Linked DNA regions of Homo sapiens. The protein of the gene in region 2 interacts with the protein of the main gene of each other region in a pairwise test. Each region holds a gene or a part of one and is shown on either strand. Other genes may lie near its edges.

The links. Proteins that work in one complex are often made in the same cells at the same time.
Region 1: the proteins of PCDHA2 (region 2) and HCN1 interact in binary tests that used the Homo sapiens proteins (3 or more experiments, as listed by UniProt).

Annotation. Positions count from the first base shown.
Region 1 is NC_000005.10:45,647,731-45,651,482, forward strand, and holds part of HCN1 (potassium/sodium hyperpolarization-activated cyclic nucleotide-gated channel 1), read right to left. Parts: intron 1-3,752. UniProt on the Homo sapiens protein: Hyperpolarization-activated ion channel that are permeable to sodium and potassium ions. Displays lower selectivity for K(+) over Na(+) ions.
Region 2 is NC_000005.10:140,979,724-140,983,475, reverse strand, and holds part of PCDHA2 (protocadherin alpha-2 isoform 1 precursor), read right to left. Parts: intron 1,002-3,752; coding exon 913-1,001; intron 1-912. Other genes in the region: PCDHAC2 (protocadherin alpha-C2 isoform 1 precursor), read right to left, coding at 913-1,001; PCDHAC1 (protocadherin alpha-C1 isoform 1 precursor), read right to left, coding at 913-1,001; PCDHA13 (protocadherin alpha-13 isoform 1 precursor), read right to left, coding at 913-1,001; PCDHA12 (protocadherin alpha-12 isoform 1 precursor), read right to left, coding at 913-1,001; PCDHA11 (protocadherin alpha-11 isoform 1 precursor), read right to left, coding at 913-1,001; PCDHA10 (protocadherin alpha-10 isoform 1 precursor), read right to left, coding at 913-1,001; PCDHA9 (protocadherin alpha-9 isoform 1 precursor), read right to left, coding at 913-1,001; PCDHA8 (protocadherin alpha-8 isoform 1 precursor), read right to left, coding at 913-1,001; PCDHA7 (protocadherin alpha-7 isoform 1 precursor), read right to left, coding at 913-1,001; PCDHA6 (protocadherin alpha-6 isoform 1 precursor), read right to left, coding at 913-1,001; and 4 more. UniProt on the Homo sapiens protein: Potential calcium-dependent cell-adhesion protein. May be involved in the establishment and maintenance of specific neuronal connections in the brain.

The DNA of each region.
Region 1 (3,752 bases), about 95 Mb from region 2:
TATATTCCTCACATATCCCCTATCTCAGGGAATGGAATAACTCTATGTGTGATTTGCAAGCCAGAAACCATGGAGCCATCCTAAATAACTCCTGGCCCTAAATCTGCTCAAACCCATATCCAATTGATCACCAAGGCTGTTTAGTTCTCACACCTAAATGTATGTTGTATTCATCCATTTGCACTTTACTATTCCCACTGCAGCTGTCCTCATTCAGAAAGTCTTACCAGCTGTTTTATTTAAATACAAGCCAATTAAATGATTTTATTTTACATTTTCTAACCTGTTCAAAGAAGATTATTACAGAGCCAAATATACAGGGTTTTATGGATTAAACGAGACGATATATGCTAATCCCAGGGCCTGGCATATAATTGTGGCACACAATGCCAGTGGCCTAGTCACTACCCATTTACCCTTCCTCACTTACCACAAGAAATCCAATTTTGTGGGAAGCACCCAGCAACCTAATGAAAAATACTCATTTCTACAGACATCTTTGCATTTCTGTAATTAAGATAGAAGCTTTTTTTGAAGGAAAACTAATATCCCATCCCTCAGAGCAATAGAGATGAAAAGAAAGCACCATTCATTCTTTACTACAGTAATAATGCTTATCACACTATAGCTTTTTGCTAGCAATACTTAATATGGTCTGAAGCCATTAGATATCTCAATACCAGTAGGAAACTCTGTTAAACCCCATAATATCCTTTTAAAGTAACATCGACTCTATTTTGCAGACAAAACCACAGGTGCTTTTATATGCTTACATAATATTGTCTTTAGTTAGCATGGATTCATTCCTTAGGTAACAAAAAAATACAATCATCACCTGTTCTAGAAGTGCAATATACCTTCTTTAAAAAAAGTAAATGGGTTCTTAAAAATTGACCTCATGAAAATCTCTTACCTAATTGCCCATGAGTCTTTCTTTCTAGCTCTTTACTCTCAAAATTTCTCTTAGATACCCAAGCTCCTTCTTTACCTTAACTCTCAGTTTCTATGTCTTGCACATTTTATTACCATATCATCTTTCCTATCTATCCCCTCCTTCCATTCTTATTTCTCTGGTCTGGGCAGAGCCACCTTCTGCTTGAAATTCCTCATGAGTCTCCTGCCTCTTCTCTCTAATCAAGTCCCACCACTCCCAAAGCAACTTACCTAACAATCAATTTGCTAGGTCAACAACCAGCACTGACTCTCTCAATTAAACGAAAACAACTTAGTCTGTTTGTCAAGGCACTCCAGGATATGGCCTCCTCCTGCCTTTCCATCCCCCTCTTTTAACAACTGAGGACAAGCATCCCATATCTCAGGCAAGAGGGCACTTGCTCATGCTTTGCCCTCATGCCTACCTGGGTACACATACAGGAGATATGATTACTTCCATTCCAGCTATCTTTCTACCTAACAGCCCTCAAATCCCCTCAAATCCCTTTCTACTTCTCCCTCAAATCCCATTCTGGCAATGAGTTTCTTAGTTTGTTTGTGTGTGAGTGTGTGTTTTATTTTTGTTTTAGTAGACTTTATTTTTAGAGTAGTTTTAGGTTCATGGAAAACTTTAACTGAGTGTACAGAGATTTCTTATATACCTCCTGCCCCTACACATATATAGTCCCTCCCCATTATCAACATCCCCCACCATAAAAAAAAAATTGTTACAAATGATGAACCTACACTGACATCTCATTATCAACCAGAGCCCACAGTTTACATTAGGATTCACTGTTGGTGTACATTCTATGGTTTGGGCAAATACATAGAGACATGTATATACACCAGTAGTTTCACTGCCCTAAAAATCACATGTGCTTTTCCTATTCATCCTTCTTTCACCTCATTTGTTAGTTTTTTTTTTTACAACCCTCAGAGCAGCATATATTCTCAACATGTTTCCTATTTTTGATTCTGTTACTATTTGTATGTGTTTCTTCCATCATTACTGATTCAAGTTATTTAAAGTTCAAAACTGTATCTTGTCTTCTATATATTTTCTGCTATAAGATAGATAGCATCTAAGATAGCAAATGTTAAGAATATTTATTAATTGGATTTTTAATGAAAACATACACTTTAATGGGGGATATTTAAAGAAAACCTTTTATAATAAGCCAAAGAGCCATTAACAAAGTAAATAATAATTTCTTATTTGTCTTGCATATAGATCTGGATTTTACTTATTAAGGGTTTTCATTTTTACAACAGAATATGTTAAAATAAATAAAATAGGAAACAAAGAGGTTAGAAATATGCTCTTAGGTTAGATATCTAAAAAACAAAAGAGTTGTGTATTTGAGATGTTTTTACATATCATATATCTACCTACTTCTATTCATCCTGCCCCAGAGAAAAAGTATTTGTAAAAGAACTTGCTTGGACTTTGAAGGCAGACCAGAGTTAAAATCCTAGCTCCACTAACTGGATGATTTGGAGCAAGATATTTAGCTGCCATAAACTTTCATTTTTTTCTACTACTCTTAGAGTTACTCTGTGTGAGGACTACATGCAATAGTGTATGCAAAGTGTAGCATATAGAACCTGTATGAAGAGAAGCCACGACACAAAAATGATAGCTTCGGAATTCTATCTTACACTGGAATCTCTGTGGTATCCTGAATAAGGTGCCAGTTCTCCACAAAGCCTAACGTCAACAATGATAGGACTCTTTACTTATTTCTCCTTCCTTATAATAAAACCCCATCAACTGAAGGGGATGGAGAAAGAAACTGTTACGTAGAAACTTCCTTTCTCTGAAATACCAGCAAAGCAGAGAGGACACTCACTGGAAAACTAATGATCTTTATAATTACAGCAAAATCATAATCTAGGTAACTATTTTACCTTTTTCACTGGAAATATATAGAATAGGCTAAATAAAATATTATCACTAATAAGTATAATATTAACTACTAATAAAATAATTTTCATAGGCCACTTATTTTTTATGTAGAGTGTATCTTCTCCCTATAGGTTTCTAGAAGAGATAAAGTGGCGTTGTAAAGATTAGTCCATGATACTAAATCAAGAAGAATTTCAAATTCAGTCATACTTTTTTTTCTCTACCCACATGCAACCCTTTAAGGCTTGTGGTAAGGAGAACTCCTCCTTGTTCCTAACAAGAACTTCCCACTCTTCTTAAGGTTTCCCAGCCCCAGTTGCTTACGTTATCTTCTCTACTTGAAACAGCCTGATGTCAGACATTTCTAACCTAAAGCTTTAATGAGATTTAAATAATCGTCATACTTTACTACTACTAAAGGTGCTTGTATTTACAATATTTTCTCTAAATATTGAATGAAAAATTCTTTTCTCCCCTCTCTGTGATGAAATAAATATTTGTCATTGAGCAGAATTGAATAAAAATATTTATGGTTAATTTCCTGACACGGTACCAGATTTACAGTCGCTCCTATTTTATCTACAGTTGAAGTCAAATAATGTCATAAATCTGTCCCCTCAACTCACACTTAAGATTCACTTCTAAAAGAAAGAAATAGAATTCCCAAAAGATAAATGCTTTTGATAACTTCTCATGAAATATAGCACCTCTTTGGCTGATATACAGCCATAGTGTGCTGCTTCTGTGATCTGTTACTGGTTTCAAAATTAGTGGTATTCTGGGAGACTAATTAACATCATTAGCCACAATATAAAAGTTTGGACCATTGCATTTAGAAGAATGGCCTCTTGATATCAATTATTTTATAAATATGAAACATGAATTGAGCATGTTTATAACAACTTATCAA
Region 2 (3,752 bases):
TATTATCATCATGATGTTCTATTAATAGAGGATTAGAGTAGACACAATTTGTGGTCTCTACCAACACTTAATCTTCCCTTTCTGAAAACTGCCACAGCGATGGGCCTCCAAAGCCATATTTCTATTACATGACCCTGCTTTAGTGATAGGGCAAGAATAAGGATACCAAGCAAATGTGAGTTTAAGCAATTTTCCTATACTCACCCAGCCATTAGGTTTTTTACACAACTTAGCAGGTTCTCTTTCCTGAAAGTTTGGATTAGGAAATAGTCCCTATTATCCCTCTAAACTAAGAAATTGTGAGGCGGTCATGTTTGGCAACATGCATGCCAAGGCACTAAAAGTCAGTCTGCAGAATGTTGTTGATGTGCAGAGAGAAGCAGATTGACTTTGACTTGAACTCAAAACAATGCCTTGGTTCCGATAATTTTCCACTTCCATGAGAAACCATCTTCCTTCCTTCCTTCCTTTTTCTTTCTTTCCTTCTTTTTCTCTTTCTTTCCTTACTACTTTGGGTGGGTTTCCATAGTCTTCAACCAAAAGATCTTTGTTAACAGTGTCATCTCTGTGCATAAGGCCACCAGATCTTCTCTGCATGGCTTGGATGACCTAAGCATTTGAAAGGTACCTGATTTAAACAAACAAACAAACCCCAAAAACTTCATACACACACACACACATGCACACATGCGTGCACACACACTTTCCTTGTTATCCTTTTTCAACTCCTGAAGAGCATTAGGTATAAAATCAAAATAATCATATATGTAAGGAAATCATGTATGTATGGAAAAAAGGGAATAACAAAAATATAAAAGAAAAAGAGCCATCAACATTCCTGATCTTACAAAAGTAGGTCATCTGATCACTTTCCAGAAACCAAGAAAGAATGGAGAGACCCCAGCTCTTTACCTGGTGTTGCACTGGATACTGTTGGCCACTGCTGATCAGGCCCTCCTGGACCAGCCCGTAGAATGCCAGCCTCCTCTAGGTGCACAGAGCTGAATAAACACACAGACCCAGATAACGGTTAGATCATAAATTCTTTCCCATCTCTTCTTCCACCCTCAGAAATTGCTTACAACTATGAAGCCAGGGCTGCAGCTAACACATTCTGCTCATGCTTGAACTGAAGCAATTACTGCTGAGCAGTCACCCTGCATAAACTGCAGAAGCATTGCTGACTTACTTATTGCCTGCTATACTATTCCAGGAACACACATGTTCTATCTTTATGGCAATTCTGTTTTTTATTAACGCCATGTGGCGCTCACTAAATCTAACAGGAAGCCCATCAGAGGACTAAGCCATTTTAACATCTCGATACTGAAGCAGATGAGGAGGGCTTGTTCTCAAAAGTTCCAAGCCTCTCTTGCAGGTTCTCTTGTTCCTAGGTTCTCTACTCTAAAGAAGAAAACACACTAAAATATTTTCTGATAATTGGAGTATTGTTCCAATTTGGCTATCTAATTAATTCTTAACCTTATTTTCTATTTTACTCTTTCTATATCTTTTATGCATAGATGACCCACCCTATATTTCCTGAGACTAGAGAAACTTGATCACCACCACTCACAGATCCCCGCTCAGAAGAGATTAATTCAGCATAAAACATTGCTGGGAGTGAGATACAAACTGGGAGACCTTTAGAGGCAAGCAGAGATAGAACATAAACTGTTCAAGGGAAAAGAGAACATGGTGCAGTATTCATTTATGTATGTCTAATACTAACTCATATTAATCTCTCAAATATTTGTTGGATGAATGAATGAATGAATGAATGAATGATGGAAGGGAGGAAGGAAGAAAGGAAGGAAGAAATAAGTGGGATCCTAAGAGAAAATGTCCAAGAAAACCCTCATCAAAATTAGAGGAACATTTTGTTTTATTTTATTTATTTTTGAGACAAAGCCTCACTCTGTCACTCAGGCTGGAGTACAGTGGCACGATCTCAGCTCACTGCAACCTCTGCCTCCCAGGTTCAAGCAATTCTCCTGCCTCAGCCTCCCAAGTAGCTGGGACTACAGGCACCCGCCACCATGCCTGGCTCATTTTTGTATTTTTAGTAGAGACAGGTTTTCACCATATTGACCAGGCTGGTCTTGAACTCCTGACCTCAAGTGATCCACCTGCCTCACCCTCCCAAAGTGCTGGGATTACAGGCATGAGCCACTACACCTAGACTAGAGGACCCTTTTAAACTAGACATTTGCTTATCTTGAAAGTTAAATTTCTAAAATAAAATTTAGACTACTGACTAAAGGGGTTATATGAGGCAACAGAGCAGGCAAACTTGAACTATTAGAGGGAAGGCAACATATAAGTTCAATGTTTTCTCACTCTTTGACTTCAAACAACATATCCAGTAGAAATTCACTCATTAAACTCTGACCTTTTACTATTCTTCCCCTTGTCTACACTCTAGAATTATCTGTTTTTTTTCCCCAAATATTAACAGCCTTCAAGTGTTCCTGGATCCTACTAGCAAATTGTGTGGGCTCAGTCAGATTCATGAAGGTGTAACTATCCTGGAGCCAGCTCAGCTCAAAGCAGAATTTTTTAAAGAATAGTTACATGATGTCCAAGACTGGAAAGACCGAGAACACCCAAGCACACATACGAAAAAGATTAGTATTATTTAGGTTCACAACTCATTTAATATGTTCAATGTATTACAATGCAAAAAAGAAATGGCATTTTAATTTCAATTTTTATTTTATTTCTTACCCTACTCAAATCTCATAATATCTTAATTGAAACCCGAATAGGAGCACATTTGGCTTTTTTTTTTCAATTTGAAAATGGGATAAGGAAGTTATGTTATTTTATTCATTTATTTATTCTTCTGAGACAGAGTCTCGCACTGTCGCCAGGCTGGAGTGCAGTGGCTCGATCTTGGCTCACTGCAACTTCCGCCTCCCGGGTTCAAGCGATTCTCCTGCCTCAGCCTCCCTAGTAGCTGGAACTACAGGCACATGCCATCACGCCCAGCTAATTTTTGTATTTTTAGTAGAGACAGGGTTTCACCGTGTTGTCCAGGATGGTCTCGATCTCTTGACCTCATGATCTGCCCACCTCGGCCTCCCAAAGTGCTGGGATTACAGGTGTGAGCCACCGCGCCCAGTCCAGGAAGTTATGTTTTAATGTTTTATTTCAAATGTAGTTTTTAAGGCACAACTCATAGCTTTGGTACTTTTCAAGAGTTGGTACTGTAAACCATGCTTTTACCCATTGCATGTCTCCACCAACAGCTCAGATGCAGGCAAAAGCACAAGTTGGTCTCTAATAAATATAAAGAATTTCTTCTGATACCTAATATTCTGGTATATGCATGAATGTTTCTGGCCTAAAATTATGACCCAGGTTCCAATGTGACATCTTACCAAGCCAACTACTAATCTTCAGCCCTTCACTGATTGCTTCTGAATCAGAAATAGCACCCAATGTAATGATTTCTGCTCATTTGTAATGCTTGAGAGTATGTTAATTTATTTCAATCTAATGCATTTTAATGGGCTAAAACTAATTTCACATTAACTCTACACATACTTTGTAGGCTTTCTCTTTACGAACTGATCTAAGTTTGGTGAATATTCACTTGATAGTTGCCCAGATATTTTGAGGGGCTTAAGTTTGAAGATTATTTCTTCTTTAAAATTAAATCCTTTTGATAGTTGTGATCATTTGTTTCTTGGTCCTTCCCATTTGGTTTCCAAAGACATTCGCAAATAATGAATCTTTTATTTGGCCCC